Linked DNA regions of Homo sapiens: all the other regions are linked to region 1. Evidence: fine-mapped expression QTL. A gene starts in region 1. Each other region holds a variant in brackets. All regions are shown on one strand. Distances are from middle to middle.

Region 1 (4,362 bases):
AGTGAGCTCAGAGCATATCCCGTCCCTCCTGCTGGGAGCAGGCACCCGGATGGCTCCCAGGAGGGTGGAGAATGCTAGGCCAGACAGGGGAGGGAGGGCATTCCAGTAAGACAGAGAGCATGAGCTTAGCATGAGCTAAGCCAGAAAGACGGTTCAGGAGAAGTGCATTTCAACTTTAGCTGAACCTTCCACTGCTACTATTTATTGACCCTTACACCTGATTATTTATGACCCAGGCCTGCCTCACACACTTTATGGCTAATGTGGGTGACACCCATCTGGGATACACAAGTGTGGTGCAGCAGTCACCACCTGTTCTGACTGGTCCGTACCTGAGCTCTGTATTGTTATTAAATAAATGAATGCACTGAATCTCACAAGCCTGTGAGGCAGGGATTACTATTACCCCCATTTTACAGATGAAAAACCAAAGCACAGACAATAGTCAAAGAAAAGATAGCAAGGTATGCAGGAGCCTGAAGTAGTGGGCACCCAATGCCAGGGCAACAAACTGCCCTGGCACCTCACCTGGCCTCTCTTATCAGGGAACACCTTGCAGCACAAAGAATGCCTTGAGGAAAGGGGCCCTGTTAATCCCCTGGAATCCCCAACAATTGACTGCCGCATAAAAGGAATGAGGAAAGCAATGAGAGCCAGTGAAGGGTGAGCATACCAGGCCCTGCCCTGCAAACCTAGTCCCTGTTGCGTGGGCAGGGCAGGGCAGGGCAGGGCAGGGGCTCGGCCTCACAGCTCCACTCCATGCCCAGCGCAGAGAACAGAGGGGAGAGCTACCACAAACGCCGAATCTCTACAGAGAGGTCAAGGATTGGAGGGCAGAGACAGAAATGCCCCGGGCTGACTGTTTCCAGCTTGGGCTAGCACTGGCTGGCTTAACTTTTCCCCTCCAAAGTCTCTAGGTAACAAACTTCGCGTGTCTCCTTTAAACCAACAGACCATTTTACCTAAGTCTTAAGGGCCTGGCCTGCACCCATGGGAGATACAAGTCCAGGAATCCCTTCCTGAAACTGGGGATCAAGGTTGGGGAAGGGGCGAAGGCACGCACAGCACCTGGGATGGCTCCCGCATTCCCTCAAACACTGGGGAGAGTTCCTTACAAATAAACTGCAATGGTAGCAGCTCCCAGGAATGTGCGTGCTCCCAGTTTCGGAGGAAAGTTCCTGAAGATAGCCTTCTCTGCTTAATCTCCCCAAGCCTCGCCTAGAAGGGCGCGCGCACCCTGGAGGGCTCCGCAGGGCTGCGGGGCCGGGCCTCCGGCACCCCTCCCGCCACCCGTTGCCTCCTGCGCCCAGGGTCACGGCCCCTGGCCCTACCCAGGCCCAGACTGAGACCCCGACCCCTGAGCCCGGGGGGACGGCGAGTGCACCCCGACCACACATGAGGGAGCAGCCCCAGACGCCGAGGCTGATCTAGGGGGCTGCCAGGCCGACACGGCCCGCCCGCGACCCGCCGACGCCCTCCCCTGCCCCCCACCCCCACGCCTGTAGTGCAACCAGGAAGCCGCAGGGCCGCGCTGGGCTGGGCGCCAGGCAGCCCCGGGCCTCACCCGCGGCGCCGCGGTGCACTGCCGCCGCCTGGTCCCAGGCCCCCAGCCGGCTCGGGACCCTCACTCACCTGGCCACGGGGACTCCGGACGCGAGGGGCGAAATGGGACGTGGGCGGGAGTGGCTCTCTCCGCGGGCGTCCCGGGCGCGGCGCCTGGGTTCTGCCTAGGGGCTGGGTCCCACTCCCGCTCGCGGGGCCCGCGGGGCACTCGGGGCACTGGGGAGCCGCGGGCGCAGCAGCCGTCAGCGCCGGGCGGAAAACTCCGCGGGCGCGGCTGCCCCAGGTGCCAGAGGCAGTGCAAGGGAGGGGCGGGGCCTGAGCGCGGCCCCGCCCCCAAGATGAGGACTGGGCACGGCGGGCCCGCGAGGAGCAGCAGCCTTCCGGCTGCGGAGCTGCTCCAGGAAGTCTCGGGCTCCGGAGGTCCCTCTGCCGCCCCTAACCCCTGCGGCGCCCAGTGCCGCGCAGAGCCGCATTCGCCCTCCTGCAGGGGTGGGCATTTCCTAAGTCCTCTCCAGCCCCGTGTGCGTCGGTTAGTGACTCTCTTTAAGGTCGAGAAAACTTTTTACACTGAAAAGGTCAAACGCATTTCCTTTATAGCAACACTCGGTGGTGGTGGAGGGGGGAAGGTCACGCACAGTATGTGAGGAAGGGAGCGGTCAGTGACTATCGTGGAGAAACCTGACAAACCACCCAGCCGTCAAGGTGACCTCGACAGGGGTAAATCATACTGATTGCATGCACCGCTTGTGGTCTTCCTCCCAAGAACACCTAACCCCACTGTAATCATGAGGAAAACATCACAAATCAATTGAGGCCCTTGCCATATACATGACCAGTACTCCTGAAAACTAGCAAGGTCATCAAAAACAAGGAAAGTCTAGGACACTGTCACAGCCAAGAGGAACCCACGGAGATATAAAAATGACTTAAGATGTTAATAATAGGAAAAGCCCGGGTTTATGAGAATTCCCTGTATTCACACTTTTTCTGTAAATCTAAAGATGTTCTAAAAATAAAGCATATTTTTAAAAGGTCACCCAGGTAATATATGCATATATGGTAGGTATACAATTTTTTTTTTTAATGAGTGGTGGCTGACGCCTGTAATCTCAGCACTTTGGAAGGCCAAGACAGGAGGATGGCTTGAAGACAGGGCTTCCAGACTAGCCTGGGCAACATAGTGAGACCCAGTCTCTAAAAAACTAAAAATAAAAAATTCAAAAAATGAGTAAAAATTGAGATTCACTCTTCCCTCCACTCCCCCAGCCCACTCTTAGGTGTGTCCTTCCAAATATCTCTCTTTAACACTGTGTGTGTGTGTTTACATAAACGTATTGTTTACAAAACGATATTGCAGTACTTTTCTGCAACATGTTTTTTTACTCACTATATCTTGGAGGGTCTTTCCATACAAGTGCTCCTGAACAGACCTGGTTCTTCCCATCCACTGCACACTGCGCGCCATCGTGCGCTTCACCATTCTTCATTACCTAGCTCCTTACTGAAGGACATTTAGGTTGTTGCCTATGTTTGGCTGTTACAAACAAGCTGCTGGTTCGATTTTCCTTTTTTTTTTTTTTTTTCTGAGACGGAGTCTCGATCTGTCGCCCAGGCTGGAGTGCAGTGGCGCGATCTCGGCTCACTGCAACTTCCGCCTCCCGGGTTCAAGCGATTCTCCTGCCTCGGCCTCCTGAGTTGCTGGATCTACAGATGCCCACCACCACGCCCGGCTAATTTTCATTTTTAGTAGAGACGGGGTTTCACTATGTTGGCCAAGCTGTTCTCGAACTCCTAGGCTCAAATGATCCGCCCGCCTCGGCCTCCCAAAGTGCTGGGATTACAGGCGTGAGCCACCGCGCCCGGCCCGATTTGCGTTTTAAAGTCGCTCTGAACAATAAAATCCGGAAGGACTGGAGGGGAGGCTCCGACCTTCTCCCTGTCTGGGCAGGTGTGCTGGTGCCGGGCAGGAACGGTGCCTTGGGACAGCCTGGCCCCGGCCTCACAACGGGCCCCGGGCGCTCAGTCATATTCCGTGGCCGCTCCAACACCCCCTACCCCCACCAGCAGGCGCGGCTCTCTTTCGGGGCTGGACTGCATTTTTTGGACATGAGTCGGCGAGTGAGGGTGAAACTCAGGCCAAAGTCTCCAGAGCCGCTCGGAGAAAACGCTGCCTGGAACAGAAGAGCAGAGGATCAGAGGCACCACCAGAGACTCTCAGAGTGGGTTATTACCCTGGTGGGGGCGCCTGCTGCGGCGTAGGAGATGGCGGGACTGGGGGCGCGGGTGTGAAGCCCCCAAGAAATCTGTGTGAATTTCCTGGGGAGGTAAGGTCTCCAGGCGCTCTCTCTGGGCCCGGGGATTGGTCCGGGAAGGTCTCCTGGCGCCTACCCAGCCCCCACTGCCTGGACGCCTGCGCCTGCTCTGCCGCCCCACAGCGACCGCGAAGGCCAGCTTCTTCGAAAGGCCCATTTTTCTCCGTGGCTGAGCGAATGCTCCTAGAATACCACGTTTATAATAAATCATGTAGGGTGGAATTCCTGCTGGATGTATACACCTTTCTGCATCAGAGCTCTTCAAACCCAGAATGGTGAATAGCTACCCCTGGGCTTACCCTTTTATAATTTTCAACAAACCTGCGTTTAGCCCCGGCTAGGTGCCAGCAAGTTGCTAGGGACTGAGGAGGCTCTGCAGAGGACCCGAGCTGAGGCCCTAATCCTCAAGGCCAATGGCAGGGGTCACCGCCCAGGCACCCCCAGAGAACGCGGTGTGAAGGAAAAGACACCAAACTCGGTGTTCAAA
Region 2 (4,362 bases), 77 kb after region 1:
TATCATGTAGAACTCTTTGGCCAACCAAAATTCTCCGTGGTGCATTTTACTGTGCTCAATTAGACCTTGGTTAACACACACACACACATCCTACAGAGACCTGCAGATTAAAACAAGGTGATGCCAAGGCTCCTCTGGCTGAGGACGGTGGCTGACTCATACCCTGCCCCTCAGGCTCTCCCACAGGTGCCTCCCAGAATCTAGTTTGAGCATCACTGCACTAGGAGAAAATCAAGAGCCCTTTTGATACTGTCACTCAGAAGCCCAGCTGTATGCCTGACACAACTATTAAACATACTGAACAAATACAGTGTACATGAACTATCCAGACAGACTCCCCAAGCCAGGGTCCTCTGACCCTGAGAGGTACACAGAGTCTGGGGCAAATGGAAAAGCCACCTGCCCTTTCCCATCTACAAAGCTGAGGCACAGGGTGCAGGCCTGCTACACCTAGCACGCGAGGCACTGGTTTGGGGAAGTCTGGACTAGCAGTAGCTCAGCCCTGGGAGTCCCATGAGGAAACTGCTATGCACCGAGACCGTGCGCACCTCCTCACAGCTGTGCTGGGCTCAGTCACAGGGACTGTGAGAATAAGGGACTGAATACATGGACGCCCCCACCACAAGGTCAAGCATAGTGACACACTCACTCTCCAAACCCCCACAGCCATCTTCCTTCCCATCTATTCTCCTACCCACACAGCCTGAAAGGGCTTACAGAGAAAACACACAGATCCAAGCTGCTGTTTCTGTACAAGCTTCAGGTGGGGATCTACTGCCAAGGAATAAAACTGAAGCTTTTCAGTCTGACACAGCCCTTGCTCCTGGGACTCCTTGAGCCAACATGAACTCAAGTTTAGCCATCAGCATGATATACTTTTCCATCTCCACTAGGTCCCTGCCTAGAACGTTCTACCTCCAGCTCCCACCCCACATGCCCAAACCCCACGTCCACTCTCAGTGCATGTCCCTGGACCTGCCTGCAGTTCATTAGACACAATGCCAGGAACTTACCCCAGGGCACCTCATGTTGCATCATATACCCTGGGAGTATCAGGTCACCTTTGCCCTTTACACCCTCCTGTTTCCTAATGAATGTTTTTGAATGCACAAATCAATGAACAGTCTTTAAAGAACTGCCAAAAGCTGTCCTGTTCTGCACTGAACATTTCAGTTTACCTAATCACTGTCTGTCTAAATAATGAATCTCCCCAGGGCTCAAAAATCAAGCAAGGGCTCCAAGGAATTTGGAAAAACAGAACTTAGGGGACCAAGAGGGGAGGTACAGGACTTGGAAAGGACAATGAGCCCAGCAACACCGCAGCCAGGAGCAACGAGGAGCCACTGGCCTGAGACCCTGCTAAGGCTGTTCCTGTCCACTGAGCACAGGTAAATGGACAAGCTTGGGCACAGGGAACCTCAGCCAGCTGAGCTCAACTCAGCCACGGCTGGGCTCTCGCTCATTTCTCCCTTTCTAGGGAACATTGCCTCCTGGAAAATTTCCCTCCTGCCTAATGCAGAAAAAGTTTTGCACTTGAATAAGGTCTAAATGTACATAAACAAATTGGCTTTTTTTTTGGTAGAACAGGCTCCGTGTGGTAACGCCTCAGGAAGCTGCAGCTCTGGGACAATGTGTTTCCTCTGTGAATACCCTCATGTCCCGACCAGGAGAATTAACTGGTTCTTACTGCTTCTCTTCCCACTGAGTCTCAAAATCACTGTCATGCACTCAACCAATATTAATTGCTCATGAGTGCTTTGGGCTGCACCAGGCCATGGCTGGACTGAACCTCTGCGAGTCTGCACCATCATACCATGAGTGGGCTCTCTCACTTACAAACGGGGGTCCAGCACCCTGACCCACAGGATGCTACACATCACCCTAGACAACGATTATGTGACACAGGCAGAAATGAACACCTTTAAAGTCATGCTTCTCTCTGTGCATCTTGATTACAGGTGTATAGCTAGGCAGGATGACCTGGAAGTGGGTCTTTTTGCCATGGCGTGAGGTCATCACATCTCTCACAGTGATTTCAGAGAATTAG[G/A]GAAAGAGCTAACAGAGACCCAAAATGAATTTTTCTTTAAAAATTAGAATTGCCTGAACATCTAATGCCAGAGACCAACGTGGAGACTCTAAGAATTGGGGCCAGAGCCCTGCCCAGGAAGCCAGCATGGACAAAGGGCCCCTGAAGCTCCTGCAGAATGTGATCGCATACAGGCCCTCCGCACCTGGTGTCTGCTCTCTGGGTCCTTTGCTGCCCTCCAGGCTGTGCCGCTGCCTGGCCTGCTCAGTCTCAGATGTTGGAATCTGCTTCAAAGTTCTGCTAGGGCCTGTGCCCCTTCCCTGGGTGGTGGCCCCACACTATGTAGCACTGGTGCTAACCTGGACCAGCCTCGCCTGCTGTCAGCACCAGTTCTGGACTGAGTCATCTTGCTCCATGTCTATGATTGCAAGTAGGTTTAGTGGAAGCACAGGAGTCCTCAGCCTAGTGGCTGCTTACCCTGTGATCTCACACAGACTGTTTACCCCTCTAGGCCTCCATTTCCTCGTCTGCATAAGTACATAAATGATTAAGACAACACAAGAGACTATCACCAGTGCCTGGCAGCGAGCATGTCCCCAAAGGAGGGCAGCCCCCTTTATTCAGTGCATCTTTCTCTTCCAAAGCCTTTGGCAGCGCCAAGAAGGCAAGGCCTAAAACAAGCCCAATCAACAACAGATGGGCATGTGCTGGGCCCACTGGGCATAGTCGCCTGTTGGCCATCCTTATGCCAGAGTCTTTGACCCCTGGAACCTGACAGACAAGTGTAGGAGTGTTTTCCTCCTGGTAGTATTGATGCTCCCATCGGGCTGAAAGGCACGGGTTTGACTCAGCACTGGGGTCTCTATCAGCAGAGAGCAACAGGGATTTCAGACCCGGAGGCCTGCCCTCACCCTTGGCTGAGTCATCGTAGCCGATGTGCTTGATGGTGTCCCTCACCACCCGCTGGTAGTCCACCATGGCCATTGAGGTGATCTCACCACACAGCAGCACCATGCCGGTCTTGCACACTGTCTCTGAAAGGGAGCGGGGAGCGAGGAGAGTTAGCAGCCAAGTGCCAGCAAAGGGAAGCTCACATTCCCAGACCTCTCACAGTGCAGACAGAAAAGACACAGGAGGGGCCTTACGAGGAATGGATTCCAGAAGGAAAATAGAAACGCCAATAAAAAGAAAAAATCCCAGCACCAAGCACTGAGCATCTTCCAATGCTGTCTTGGAAAGAGTCAGTCATAAGCTGTGATCCTGGACAACTTATTTAACCCCTCTAAGTCTCTGTTCCCTCATCTATTTAATAAAGCTATTTATAAGACTGCTATGTGGATTAAAGGGAGATGATGGTTGTATGTAGCTGTCATAAAGAAGGTAGTCCACACATGTGACCCCCCATCCCCCACATTGCTAAACCTCCACTGCAGGCTTTAGGGAGTGGGATCTGGACCAAAAAAAATCAAAGCAGGCCAACCTTCTCTCCAGATATTTACAAAGATATAAGGGTAGAATCTACCTTCAGAGGGGCATGAGTCCCTGTAGTATTCAATACAGGGCTGAGGATGCAACCAGAGAGGGAAGGATGGGTCTGTGCAGTGGACAAGACATGACAATGACAGTAAGGAGAGCAAGGCTCTGGTCTTCACACTGGGGCACCCTACCCCATGGCCTTGGCCAGGCCCTGATGCAGAGGGTACCGTGATCCTGTCTCTAAAATGAACAGGCTGGACCTGATCACCCTGGGGCCCCTCCAGACTCCAGAGTCCATGACTCTGCCACTGTGCCACAGGCTTCAAGCCAGGCAAAGGTTTTCCTGCCAAACAACTTATCCCACAAATAAAGGTGAAGATCTTCAGCCTACATGAGTCTTCAGACACAATAAATTATGCAGATGGGAGCCAGGGCTTCAGTACTTTAGTTTAACATTAATGTCTCTTAGGAAAGCCATTGATTTATTGAAAAACAATTGGTGAAGATGTTGCCTTCCTGTTGCTATTAAATGGGGGACACTAATTATTTTAAAACCTAAATCATACCACAAACTAGGAAAGAAAACAAGAGAAGAAGCCAGGTATCTGTGCAGCCAACAAAGGCTCCTACAATGAGGATGCAGCTTATAACCATCTAGGCAGCTACCTGTGTTTCAAGCTCTTGCATCCCGTCTGGAAGATTCACCTAAGAACTTTGAAAGACCTCCTTGTTCCCAATGAGATCAAGCATCAGAAAGGCCATGTGCTGGTCCAACCCTCTGCTATTTATGGTTGCTATGACATTTAACGTTAGATTCTTGCTAAAAATAATTATCTATTTGTTTCATGGTTAGAAATGTT
Region 3 (4,319 bases), 48 kb after region 1:
GAAGTTAAAGAAATATGATAACCGTGCCAAACTGCTATCTCTAGGTAAGATTATTCCGTCAGAAAACCCTCTCCCAGTTCCCCTGTAGCTCTTCAGGAATCCCCATCTCCCCATAGCTCTTTGTGCCCATGGATGGCGCTTCCAAAGTAGAGAAGACCGTTTGTCAAGAAGGGAAGCAGAAGGGGGACGAGAGGGTCTTGCAGGCAGAGCTGGAATCGACTTCCACTCTGCTTCTTGCAAGCTGTGTGATGCTAGGTGAAATTTCTCCTTCCTCTGGAGCCTCTATTTTCTTAGATTTGGAGCAGGGTGGTCACACTGACCTTGTAGATTTCTGAGAATCAGAGACAGCACATGAAAAGCCTGGAGGCCATTCTCTTAAGAGTAGCTGTGACTCATGTGTGGACAATGGGCTTTTCATGCTTCTGTTTCTCTCTGTTTATCTGATGCAAGGAACATGCTCCGGTGATGATGGTGAGGGAGGAATTAGGATAGACATAGACACCCCTGTGTCAGAAACATGCTTCTTTATTACTGGGTTATGACTCTGTCTTCCCAGGGACAGGCCCCAGCCTGCGTACATTTGCAGACAGAGTGGCGTGTGGGGATAGCAGTTTGTCCCCACGACTTTTCTTCACTCCCCTGCTGTTGGAAGGACTCAGTTGAAGGGACACTTTATGGCATTGATGCTGCCATTTTGAAACCTGGAGGAGGGAAAGGTGCAAGGGACTATCACCTGAGGCATAAGGTGCAGCTTGTGTTGGTTTTGGTGTTTTTGTGTCCATCATATTCATATATTTCAAAACATTTTCTCCTCCTGACTTGTAGGTCAATGTGGCTACAGGGAAGCCTCATCCTTTCTCAGAATGGCCCTACTTGCCCGATGTCATGGCTGGCCCTTCAGGACCATTGATGGGCTGCCAGCCGCCTCCTCTACCTGGGTGTTGTCTGGGAACTCAAACACTCCCTCCATCTGAAGGTTTTCTGGGACCTCAACAAACTCCTCCACTGGAGAGTCCTCTGGGAATTCAACCACCTCCACTCGACTGTCCTCTGGGAACTCAGCCACCTCCTGCACTAGAGAGTCCCCTGAAAACTTAACCACCTCCTCCACTCGATTGTTCTCTGGGGCCTTATCCAGCTCCTGCAGCTGTCAGTCCTCCAGGACCTCATCCACCTACTGCAGCTGCCTGTCTTTCCGGACCTCATCCACCACCTGCGGCTGTCAATCCTCCAGGACCTCAATCACCTGCTGCACCTGTTGGTCCTCCATGACCTCATTGACCCACGGCATGCATCTGACCTCATCCACCTCCTGCAGCTGTCAGTCCTCCGGGACCTCATTCACCTCCTGCAGCTGTCGGTCCTCCGGGACCTCATCCACCTCTCGAAGCTGGTGGTCCTCCGGAACCTCATCCACCTCCTGCAGCTGGTGGTCCTCCGGGACCTCATCCACCTTTTGCAGCTGTTGGTCTTCCGGGACCTCATTCACCTCCTGCAGCTGTTGGTCCTCTGGGACTTCATCCACACCCTGCAGCTGTAGGTCTTCTGGGACCTCATCCACCTCCTGCAGCTGTTGGTCCTCTGGGACCTCATCCACCTCCTGGAGCTGTAAGTCTTCTGGGACCTCATCAACATGCTACATGTGTCTGTCTTCCGGGACCTCATCCACCTCCTACAGCTCTTGGTCCTCCCAGACCTCATCCACGTCCAGCATGTGTCTTCCCTCCAGGACCTCATCCATCTTTTATAGCTGCCTTCCTCTAGGACATCATTTACCTTTTTGTTCTGTGAGGCCTCTGGGACCTCCGACTACATCTCCACTTAGTAACCTCTGGATCCTCAGCCACCCCTTCTACCTGGGTGGCGTCTGGCCCCTCAATAACCACCTTCACATGAATCTCCTCGGTTACTTCAATAATCTCCATTTGTGG[T/C]CCCTGGGACTTCAGCCACTTCCTCCACCAGGGTCTCCTCTAGTACATCTGCCACCTCCTCCACTTGGCTGGCCTCTGCTATCTGAACTCCTCCAGGACCTCAACCAGCTCCCCTACCCATTGTTGCCTGTAGGACCTCGACCACGACCTCCACATGTACTACTTGGTATATTTATCTGAACAGTATGAACTGAGTTGCAAAATGGATTCATCTTTCCCTTTCTGAATGAATAGAAATGTTACAGATTGTACTGCAGGGCTTTGCACTGGCTGAGGATGTGGTCACTTTGCTCAAGTTTCTGAGAGTACAAGTCAGTTGCATTATTTCCTCATCATGACCTTGGCAGAAGGTATCTTCTGTAGATGAGGAAAGAGTTTTTTTTCATTTTAAGGGGTGGGGGCAGAGTCTTGCTCTGTCACCAAGGCTGGGGTGCAGGGGTGCACTCCTGGCTCACTGCAACCTCCGTCTCCAGGGCTCAGGTGATCCTTCCACCTCAGCCTCCAGAGTAGCTGGGACTACAGGTGTGCAACACCATGCTTGGCTATTTTTATTTTTTAACTTTTTGTAGAGACCACGTTTCACCATGTTGCTCAGGCTGGCCTCAAGCTCCTGGAGCCATGCCATCTGCCCACTTTGGCCTCCCAAAGTGCTGAGATTACAAGTGTGAGCCACTGTGCCCAGCCAGAGGTTATTTATAGAAGCTAGAAATACAAGTTTTGCAGGCTTGTGTGGAACCTGGGCCATATGGCCAGCTCTGTGAGGGATGAGACCCATCCCTGGCTGGCAGGGCATCCTGTGTGCTGCAGCAGAGAGACCCACACTGAAGGGCACAGAGCTTCTGACCAGCCCAATGGAAACACAAGTGAAGGGACACAGGGTGCAGAAGGAGGAGACAGAATCTCCTGGGAGTAAACAGGAGGCTGTGGAAGAGAAAGCTGAAGCAGGGAGGTGTGACATGGGGGGTTGTTGAACTCAGGTAGAGCTGGAAGGCTGCTCCTAGCCAGGCAAGCAGCGTGAGCAGGAGCATGGAGGCTGCGGTGAGGGCCACACAGAGCTGCCATGGGAGCTCAGATACCACATTGTGCACAGGAAATTACCACCCCAGCACTTCCTTGTTGCCCTACAGCCTTTAGTCCATTATCGGTAGGAAGATGATTCTTTCCCTGGGTGCATGAAGGCTCTAGATCGGGGTGAATGAATGCCTAGAGGTCTGAAAATTTTAACTTGGTTCTGTCAGGGGAACCTGTCTCCCTGAGTTTTCACGGCCTAAGGAGACTAACAATGAGGATGGGTCTGGTTCAGTGGAGCTGCGGCCTTGGCCTTCAGAATGAGGCCAACTCTGGCTGGAAACTCAAGGCCAATCCTGAGCTGCTGTGACCTACTCTGATCTCCTGCACCCTCTCCTTCCCACCCACAACTCTCAGCTTTGCATCTCCCAACCTTGGCAGGCAAAATGCTTCCCCTTCCCTGTGTCTTTGCTGCCTAAGCCCAGACACCAACTCTCAGTAGAGCTCAGAGCCCCAGCTTTCTCAGAAATGAGCTGGGAATGATGCGATTATGAGGTCATGGTGAGGACAGGGAGACCAAGCTCATAAGGAAGGCATCTTGCAAAATAGCTGGTAGATGGTAGAGCCTCACCCCTCCCGCTGGTTAAATGAAAATATTTCCACTCAGAAGATCAGCAAAAGGTGTTCATTGAAGTTCATTTAATAAACCTTAGGGTGTAGCAGCTCAGGCTCTGGGATTTCCAGTTTCTCTTTCAAAAGATAAGGGAAAGCCCCTGTCTCCAAGATTAGAATTCAGATCCTTACGAGATGAAGAGATCCTAAAAATGCATACACAGTTAAACTCTGAGATTTGTATCTGTGATCTGTGGATAATTATTCTCCATGACATACAGACACAGATATGGCCACACACAGAAGTATTCAGCAGGGGCACAGATATTTCATAGAAGACAAAATGTATATTGGGCAAAAGAAGGTCACCTGGAAATAAACCGAAATCTTTTTACCTTACAGGATAATTTTGAAATTTGAAGAGTCTCCTGGGCCATGATATCTTGGAAAAGTCTCTACCATATTTGATGCTCCATGTCCCATGCTTCCTCCTCTCTCTCTCATTTCCAGTGTTTCCCTTTAGAAACATTTGCAGTCCTATCTTTCTGGGTGTCCGCTTCCTGGAGGACCAGTTCACACCCCAGGGTATACCAGGTGTGACTCCTCATACACTATTCAAACTCAGGCAGATACTGCCTTGCTGGACACAGAAGCAGGGTTACCCTTTGGGTAGTGTTGACTGGGAAGGGTCCGAGGGGGGCTTCTGGGGTGGGGGAATATCCTGTATCCAGCCACGGGTGGAGGTTGTGCTCATTCATTCTAGAAAGA
Region 4 (4,362 bases), 31 kb before region 1:
GGTTAGATCTGGAAGAGAAGACGAAAGCACATTCAGGCTCTGCCTGAGAGCCCCTGCTGGCCCGTGGGACCCAGCTTCTTGAAAGGGCAGCCACCACCACAACTGGGACCCTGCAGAAGAAACTGCTGCATCTGCCCTGCTTGTCGCAGACCAGTTCACTGTCTCCTGCTGGTGCCTCCAGCTAGAAACAGTACCCACCAGCATGCTGCCTGACTTCTGGGCCAGGGCCACACCCCCGGCCCCACCCACAGTGACAGGATTCACTCCCCATGAGCCAGTTTCCTTGAAAGGCCCTCTCACTGAAGCTTTGCTCCTGCCTCTGCTGGCAAGGGTGCAGTGCGCCTCTGGGCCTGTTCTCCCACCTCAGAGGTAGAGACGCACTGCCTCATTCTCAGGACTCCAGGTCTGTCTATTTATCTTCCTGTGTCCTTATTGCCATCCCTCCAGCAACAGGGGAAGTCAGAGGCCCCTGTCTCTCTTCATTCTCCAACCTCTGGTTCATCAGGCAAGGGGACCTGGTAAGGTATGGAATCATCGTTCCTAGAAGCAAAAAGGGCCCTCAGGAGGTTCATCTGATGCAGGGTGAAGAACCAGGGCAAATGAGGCAGCATCACCCTGTTTCTGCAGTAGAGGCTGCTGATTAAGAGAAGTAAGTGATTTGCAGATCTGTCAGTAAGGGAGGAAGAGCAGCCTGGACAGGTGCCAGGTGAGACACCTGCTCTCACGAAGTCCCTCTGAACACGGATCCCTTGGCAATGTCCCCTGCCAGTTAAATTGTGAGGAGGGACACAGATCTGCTGTGACACCAGCCACATTGTGCAACCTGCCTGCTCTTGCTAATAGCAGCTGCTGCTGCAGTCTGCAGAGACACCCAATGGCAGGCGGACATGTGAGGAAACCTGCAGGGTCCCTCAACAATCACACCTGCTCGTCTCGAGTATGTGGCTTCTTTTTACACACTGGGTTTCACGCTGCAATGCATATCAGAATCACCTGATGGGATTGTTAAAACACATTGCTGGGCTCCACCACCAAGAGTTTCTGAGACAGTGGAACCAGTTTTTGCATTTGGAACAAGTTTCCAGATGATGTTACTGGTCCAGGGAACTCACTTTGAAGACCACTGTTCTAGCCACGCTATCCAACTATAAGAGTCTAGCTGCCCTTCATATCTATCTTGAAGAACTGGGCATATTGGGTTTTGTTTGTTTGAGACAGGGTCTCGCTCTGTCACCCAGACTGGAGTGCACTGGCACAATCATGGCTCACTGCAGCCTGGACCTCCTGGGCTCAGGTAATCCTCCCGCCTCAGCCTCCTAAAGACATGTGCCACCACACACAGCTAATTTTTTTTTTTGAGAGTCTTACTATGTTGCCGAGGCTGGTATATGCTGTTCTTTTTAAGTTTTTTTATTATTTATTTTTATTTTTTTGAGACAGGGTCTCACTCTGTAACCCAGGCTGGAGTGCAATGGTGTGATCTCGGCTCACTGCAACCTCTGCCTCCTGGGTTCAAGTGATTCTCCTGCCTCAGCCTCCCAAGTAGCTAGGATTACAGGCGCCCGCCATCATGTCTGGCTAATTTTTGTATTTTTAGCAGAGACAGGGTTTCACCATGTTGGCCAGGCTGGTCTCGAACTCCTGACCTCAGGTGATCTGCCTGCCTCGGCTTCCCAAAGTGTTAAGATTACAGGCATGAGCCACCATGCCTGGCCTACTTTTATTTTTTAAACAGCGTCTCACTCTATCACCCAGGCTGGAGTGCAGTGGTGCGAGCTCAGCTCACTGTAACCTCCGCCTCCTGGGATCAAGGGATTCTTGTGCCTCAGCCTCCAACAGGAGGGCGCAACCATCCCTGGCTAATTTTTGTATTTTTAGTAGAGATGGAGTTTCGCCATGTTGGCCAGGCTGGTCTGAACTCCTGGCCTCAAGTGATCTGCCCGCTGCGGCCTCCCACAGTGCTGGGATTACAGGCATGAGCCACTGTGCCCAGCCTACATGCTGTTTTTAAGGAAGCTAAAGAACTTCCTTAAGGTACCACCGGTCCCCATAGGGTGGGCCTGGTTTTCAGCCCTACGGGTGTAGTCATTTGTTTGGGTCAGTGGGTCCAGAGGTGACCGTAGGCAAAGCCCTATGGCTTTGGAGAAAGCTGGAATTGGCTCCCTGTAGTGTGGACCAAGGACCTACTCCTTGCAGTTTTCGGTCTCTCTGAGCCCCTAAGCACGTGGTGGATGAGGTCCC[C/T]GGTGGCATCACCTTCAGAGAGGGTGTCCCTGAGGCTGGGTGGGCTGTCAGTACAAAGCCCTCCCCGTCCCGGCCCCAGCCTGACCCTTCTGCCCAGACTCTGCCAAACCCTCAGACTTCACTGGTGAGGAGGTAATCTGGGGGATGTAAATGACCAGTAGGCCAGGAACCTTCTAATAGAAGGAACTGCCCGACAGGTGAGCAGGAAGAGCCGGGATGGTGTCTCTGTCACCTTCCTCTCTGGAGACACCACTAGGCAGGACCTTTGAGCACCAAAGACACTCTCCACTCCTGGCCTCCTCTCAGAGAAATGAAGCCAAAAGCTCCATCCACAGCCAGGCCAGGGAAAAAACCCAAGAAACAGAAGCTGGATACCACCCTGTTCCTTATACCAAGTAAATTCCAGCCAGGCCAAATAATGCAGTGAAAGAAGTAGCCCCAAAAACCAACGACATAAATAAAATTTCAGCATAAGAGACAAATTAAAAAAAAATAAAGATGAGAAAAAAACTTAGGAAAAAAGTTTTATTAATATAATAAGAAAAAGATCAATAACCACTAGAGAAACTGTCAAATGATGTGAACAGATCTGGCAGTTACAGAAAAGGAGCTGAAGATGCTCACCTTCACCAATGTGCTGAGGAAATCACCAATTAAAAATACACAGATGTCGGCTGGGCGCAGTGGCTCATGCCTGTAATCCCAGCACTTTGGGAGGCCGAGGTGGGCAGATCACCTGAGGTCAGGAGTTCGAGACCAGCCTGGCCATGGTGAAACACTGTCTCTACTAAAAATACAAAAATTAGCCAGGCGTGGTGGTGGGTGCCTGTAATACCAGCTACTCGGGAGGCTGAGGCAGGAGAATGGCTGGAACCTGGGAGGCGGAAGTTGCAGTGAGCCAAGATTATGCCACTGCACTCCAGCCTGGGTGACAGAGCGAGACTCCGTCTCCAAAATAAATAAATAAATAAAATACAAAGATATCAAAACTTAAAATGACATACCTTTGACTCAGCAACTCCACTTCTGTAAGTCTCTTCCCCAGACACACACCTGTGTGAAATGTCATACAGACATGAATTTTACTACAGCCTTATCTGCAACAACTCCTAAACCTCCACCAATGAGGCTGGTTAAATAAACCACAACAGATCCAACAATGGATACTCTGTAGCTATTTCTGGATTTAGCCAGCTCTGTATATGGAAAGATGCAATGACCACCATTATTAATCAAGGTGCAGTACTGTGTATGTACTAAGCTAATAAAAAACCCAGAAACATACAAACTAAGTGGTTCCTGAGTGTAGACGTGCACGGACATCCTTGGAATGACACACAAGAAACTAGCTAACACTAGCTGCCTCTCGAGAGGAAAGGTGGGGCTAGAAAATGAGGCTTCCGGTTTAGATCTGTTCCCTGTGCATTTCTGCTGCATGTATGTATTGGCCATTAAACAACTTTTAAAAAGGCCCAATTCAGGTGCAGATTTCTGAGCTCACTTGAGGCTAGCCGTCTGGCCCCCAAAGTCCTGGCTGGTCTTCCAAGACTAAAAGAACACACACAGGGTCCATTCAGTTCCAGGCAGCCTTGGTAACCCTGGAGGGCCTGCAGGCCAGCCTTGATGGCGCTCGTGGAGCTCATTCTTGGGGTGGCTTTTAAGGGAGTTCCCAGCAGGAGTCAAAATCTGCCTCCTGGCTAGGAGCTCTGCCCTGCATGGCCCCACAGGGCAGGTCGACCCCACTGTGAGCTGTGGTCCTGCGACCCTGGGTCTTCCCCTCTCCCCAAGATATACCTCTAGTCCTCCGTTCTTAGAAAGAATAGCCTCATTTTTCCCTCTGTCATTCTCTGCCTGAAATAGTTTCAAGCCTGCTCCCCACTTTTTTTTTTTTTTTTGAGACGGAGTCTCACTGTGTCACCCAGGCTGCAGTGCAGTGGCGCAATCTCAGCTCACTGCAACCTCCACCTCCTCGGTGCAAGCAATTCTCCTGCCCTAGCCTCCCAAGTAGCTGGGACTACAGGCACCTGAGGCACCTGCCACCACACCAGGCTGATTTTTGTATTTTTAGTAGAGACAGAGTTTCACTATGTTGGCCAGGCTGGTCTCGAACTCCCAACCTCA
Region 5 (4,362 bases), 360 kb after region 1:
GTTCTTGCCCTCTTACCCAGGCTGGAGTGAGTGCAGTGGTGTAATCATAGCTCACTGCAGTCTCCAGCTCCTGGGCTCAAGGGATCTTCCTGCCTCAGCCTCCCTGCTAGCTGGGACTAGAGGCATGCACCACCACACCCAACTGAAGAACTTTATTTCTTAAATTTCCTTATTTTTCTCAGATGACAAGAAATCTGGGGGTGTGCTGCAATGGGTAATACTAGTTTAGCTGCTCGATAAGATCACCAAGGATCCCTTCCCTTCTATCTTTTGCCTCCCCATCCTTAGCATGTGGCTTTTATCCTCATGGTTGCAAAAGTTTTCCAGTGGCTCCAGGAATCACTGCTTCATTCCTGGCAGGAAGAAGAAGGTCGGGTAAAAGAGTGAAGAGTGGCCGGGCGTGGTGGCTCACGCCTGTAATCCCAGCACTTTGGGAGGCCGAGGCGGGCGGATCACGAGGTCAGGAGATCAAGACCATCCTGGCTAACACGGTGAAACCCCGTCTCTACTAAAAATACAAAAAAATTAGCCAGGCGTGGTGTTGGGCGCCTATAATCCCAGCTACTCCGGAGGCTGAGGCAGGAAGATGGCGTGAACCCAGGAGGCGGAGCTTGCAGTGAGCTGAGATCGCGCCACTGCACTCCAGCCTGGGTGACAGAGCGAGACTCCGGCTCAAAAAAAAAAAAAAAAAAAAAAAAAAAAGAGTGAAGAGGGAAGGGGTTTCTCCTAAGAAGACTTATCCAGTTTGTTTGGAGAAGAAGAGCCCTTTACATGGAACGTCTGCCTACATCTTCTTTGTCAGAAATGGGGACATCTTGTCACTCATAGATGAATCACTTGCCAATGAGAATAATATTACCTGATGGGATTAGATCAATTTCTTTTTTTTTTTTTTTTGAGACCGAGTCTCACTCTGTTTCCCAGGCTGGAGTGCAGTGGCGTGATCTTGGCTCACTGCAACCTCTGCCTCCTAGGTTGAAGCAATTCTCCCACCTCAGCCTCCCGAGTAGCTGGGATTACAAGCATGCACCATCATGCCCAGCTAATTTTTGTAGTTTTAGTAGAGATGGGGTTTCATCATATTGGCCAAGCTGGTCTGGAACTCCTGACCTCAGGTGATCTGCCCACCTTAGCCTTCCAAAGCGCTGGGATTACATGCGTGAGCCACTGCGCCCTGCCAAATCAATTGTTATTTGTCCTTTGAGGTTGGGGTCAAAACTCACCTTTCCTAAAAGAGGGGGGATCTCTGCTGCTCCCTGAACAACTTGGGGTTCTGTGGTGAGGCAAGCGTGGAGGGTGGGTAGTTAATTGGCAGTGTCTGCTGTAATAGCTACCCATTTTTTGCTGCTTTATCTTTTCCCCTTGCTTAGCAGGATTGGTAATCCTCTTATCATTTATTTTTACCCACTATTAATTTGAAAGTTTTATAATTCTAAGCAGTGGTTGCCTCTCTGTTTCTATCAGTTATAATTAAATCGGTGTTTCTTTACTATATATTGCTTGTAACATACTTAAAAATAGCAATGCACTCCTATATATATCTGGAGAATTACTGCTGTCTTGCGCATGTAGAAAAACCTGAAATTTCAGTAGATTAATATGATGAAGGTTTATTACTTAACTATTTCACAGTTTGATGTGGGTTGGATATTTCTTCTGTGTGGCTTGCTTTCGAATATTGGATCATGGATCAGGCTGCTTTTTTTCCGTGAAATTCCACCATTTATTTCCAGCTGGGTGGACAAGAGTGAAAATGTGGAAAAGGCACACCCGCTGCTAACCACCTTAGCCTGAAAATGGCACAAATCCCTTCCCTGACATTCCGTGGACTAGAATTCGATCACATGGTCCCACTGTACTGAAGGGAAGTTGAGGAATGTAGTCAGTCATCTGTGGGCTGAGGAAGAGACATAGGGTGGTGGACATTGCATTGTCACTGTCCTAAATTGTCATTCTGGCCATCCACACATTTCATTCTTCTCCTCCATCTAAAATACACTCACCACCTCTTATAGGGGACACCTTCAGGTCCCAGCCAGTCACTGCATCCAGCTGAAAGTCCACTGTCTCTGGGGTTCTGCACTGGTCTCTATCAGGTCTGAATGTGCTGAGAAGACATATCATTTAAATACCTGTCACCCCTAAGGCACTATATACAGTGCTGGAGCAGGGTCAGAATACCCACTAAGGAAATGCCACCTGGAAAAGTGGAGAACGTGAGAGCCACAGTCTCCAGTCTATAGCATTTCTGAAGTCCTACAGGTCAGGACCGCAAAGTTTCCCTGCCTTGCAGTGAAGAGAATTCCTTGAGTGAACACTGACTTCAGCCTGGATGAGGCTTTTTGTCTGATTCCCCTTGGCCTCCTCTGAAGGGAGTGTTGAGGATCACACCCTCTAGACCAGTGTAGCCTTTGAAACCTGCCTGCTGGTCATCAAACTTGGATGCCCAAGGGCCATTTAAGTCATGAACAACCAAAGATTTTTTAATCCAGGCTCAAAAACTTAGGGGGCTTCTGTTCGCTTCCATGTCCCAGTAACAACATCTAAAATTCTTTCCTAGACATATTTCTCAACTCGACATTCTTCCTTTGTCCCTTCATCTCTGTGCCTCTCTGTTTCACCTGAAGGACATCTTCCTTGAAGCTTTTTCTAAAAATAAGTGTGAGAGATCACA[C/CT]TTTTTTTTTTTTTTGAGACAGAGTCTTGCTCTGTCGCTCAGGCTGGAGTGCAGTGGCGCAATGAGAGATCACGTTCTTAATGTGGCTATGTTAGTCTGGTTTCTCCAAGGAGTACAGACAGGATGGGATTAATCATGCAAGGGTTTTATTAAGGGAAATGTCTGGGAGAGAAAAAGGGCAGGGAGCTGGAGGAGGCTGAGGGAGTCATTGTAAGCTTGACCTTGAGTGAAGGAGAGGGCAAGGGACAGTGGGCAGAGGTGTTGCAGGCAGCTGTGCAGTCCAGGGAAAGCAATCTTTCGGCAAGGAGGTGGGTGTCTCCTGGGAATGAGCCTAGCATCCTCAATAAAAGGCTAACAGCAGCCTCTGGGAAGCAGGGCCTTGGGCAAACGCAAGGGCACAGGAGCTGCGGGGCTTGGTCAGTGATGCTCCTTGTGGTTGAAGGTGGACGGAGCACATCCTCATGGTCACCATAAGAACTTCACAGAGCCTGACCTGCAGGTGCTGTGTGCCCTTCGTCACTTTATTCACCTTAGAAGTTTTCCTGTGCTCTGTCATACAAAACCTTTAAAAATCCCATCTCTTGCAATGTCGGTCCTGGTATATGAAGAGATGCTTTTTCAATCCTACAACATCTCAAATTTCTGTATTTGTTCTATTCCCTTTCTTTCAGCTTGCAAAGCACTCAGTTCTTTCTTGAATTCATTTCTTTCTGTTAACACCTTGCCAAACACAGTCACTAGCAACCAACACTTATTCCTAATGTTCTATTTTTCAACCTCCTCCCTTAGAATGAAAAGTTCAGAAAGCATGGGGTCTGCTTTTGAAGTTACAGTGTCTAGCTTTTTAACTGAATGTTTTGCTGCTGCATAACATGGATCTCTAGCCTGTTAAACATCGCTCACCACCCAACTGCTAAGGCAGTAACACAGTTTATATTTCTGTTTCAGCAGCACCCTGCTTCTGGGATACATTTTTATTTTAATCCTGTAATCAGCGGAATCTGCTGCAATAGGCAAACTGAGAAATCTCAGTGGCTGAATTTAACACAGGTTTATTTCTTGCTAGTGTCACGGTCTGTTGTGGGACTGGGAGACTCAGGGCCCCAGGCTGCTTCATCTCACACCACCACCTGATTCCTTGTTTCTAGCCAGTGGACATGAGGCAGAGAGTGCAGAGCGGGCCCACCATCTCCTAACTGCCTTGGCCCGGGAGTGACACAAGTTTCTTCCTTCAGAGAGTGCTGCAATGTCCCTTGATGTTCTTGTAGCAAAGTCCAAAGCTTGTACTGCTCACAACACAACAGCCAATAAGTTGAGAGACAAGGCGTTGGGGCAAGGAAAGCAACTTTATTTCGGAGACCCAGCGAACCGAGAAGATGGCAACTAGTGTCCTAAAGAACCTCCTAAGCTAATATGAATTTTGGGTTTCTTTTATGTTAAGGGAAGGGGGAAGAGGCGGGGGGGTTGAGATCAAAGGGTGAGCAATGACTATGGACATCTGGGTGGCAGCGAGGGTAAAGTTCTTTGTCCTTGGTCAGGTCACAATGCTCTTATACATTTTTAACATGACATCGTTACTTGTGTGTACACCCTCTTTGTCTCCTGGGGGGTTCGTTTTGGGGAGGGGCTATTATCATCCTTGCTTTACAGTTAAACTATACACTAAATTCCTCCCATTGTTAGCTCGG

Which allele goes with the higher level. Positions count from the first base shown, and alleles are read on the strand shown. Sizes are in standard deviations (SD) of each study's normalised expression. Not every link is listed here.
As copies of CT replace C in region 5, the expression in whole blood of the gene that starts at base 1,827 in region 1 goes down (large effect, 0.82 SD a copy in TwinsUK).

What was found. PIP is the estimated chance that this variant, and not a neighbour inherited with it, causes the effect.
Region 2: its variant is the best candidate, but not a certain one, in a credible set for the expression of ANXA11 in whole blood (INTERVAL, PIP 0.55).
Region 3: its variant is the best candidate, but not a certain one, in a credible set for the expression of ANXA11 in whole blood (TOPMed, PIP 0.76).
Region 4: its variant is the best candidate, but not a certain one, in a credible set for the expression of ANXA11 in whole blood (INTERVAL, PIP 0.84).
Region 5: its variant is the best candidate, but not a certain one, in a credible set for the expression of ANXA11 in whole blood (TwinsUK, PIP 0.77).

The regions. Positions count from the first base shown.
Region 1 is chr10:80,203,711-80,208,072 of GRCh38, forward strand. It overlaps ANXA11 (annexin A11), which reads right to left and starts at 1,827. Exons shown (of 16, transcript NM_145868.2): 1 at 1,633-1,827. LINC00857 (long intergenic non-protein coding RNA 857) reads left to right here and starts at 4,000. Exons shown (of 2, transcript NR_038464.1): 1 at 4,000-4,362. RefSeq lists enhancers at 106-185, 2,825-3,466, 3,237-4,362, 3,467-4,108 and a silencer at 1,171-2,050.
Region 2 is chr10:80,280,979-80,285,340 of GRCh38, forward strand. It overlaps MAT1A (methionine adenosyltransferase 1A), which reads right to left. Exons shown (of 9, transcript NM_000429.3): 3 at 2,938-3,060. Among named protein-coding and RNA genes, the nearest start is that of MAT1A, 6.5 kb to the right of the region's middle. The variant G/A (reference allele first, on the strand shown) is at 2,048.
Region 3 is chr10:80,251,459-80,255,777 of GRCh38, forward strand. It overlaps LOC100130698 (a long non-coding RNA gene), which reads left to right. Exons shown (of 6, transcript NR_136612.1): 6 at 826-3,950. Among named protein-coding and RNA genes, the nearest start is that of MAT1A, 36 kb to the right of the region's middle. RefSeq lists an enhancer at 2,309-2,428. The variant T/C (reference allele first, on the strand shown) is at 1,932.
Region 4 is chr10:80,172,862-80,177,223 of GRCh38, forward strand. ANXA11 (annexin A11) reads right to left here. Exons shown (of 16, transcript NM_145868.2): 2 at 3,246-3,294; 3 at 1-8. Among named protein-coding and RNA genes, the nearest start is that of ANXA11, 30 kb to the right of the region's middle. RefSeq lists enhancers at 3,562-4,063, 4,064-4,362. The variant C/T (reference allele first, on the strand shown) is at 2,242.
Region 5 is chr10:80,565,417-80,569,778 of GRCh38, forward strand. The region is part of intron 1 of SH2D4B (SH2 domain containing 4B); the gene reads left to right. Among named protein-coding and RNA genes, the nearest start is that of SH2D4B, 30 kb to the left of the region's middle. The variant C/CT (reference allele first, on the strand shown) is at 2,675.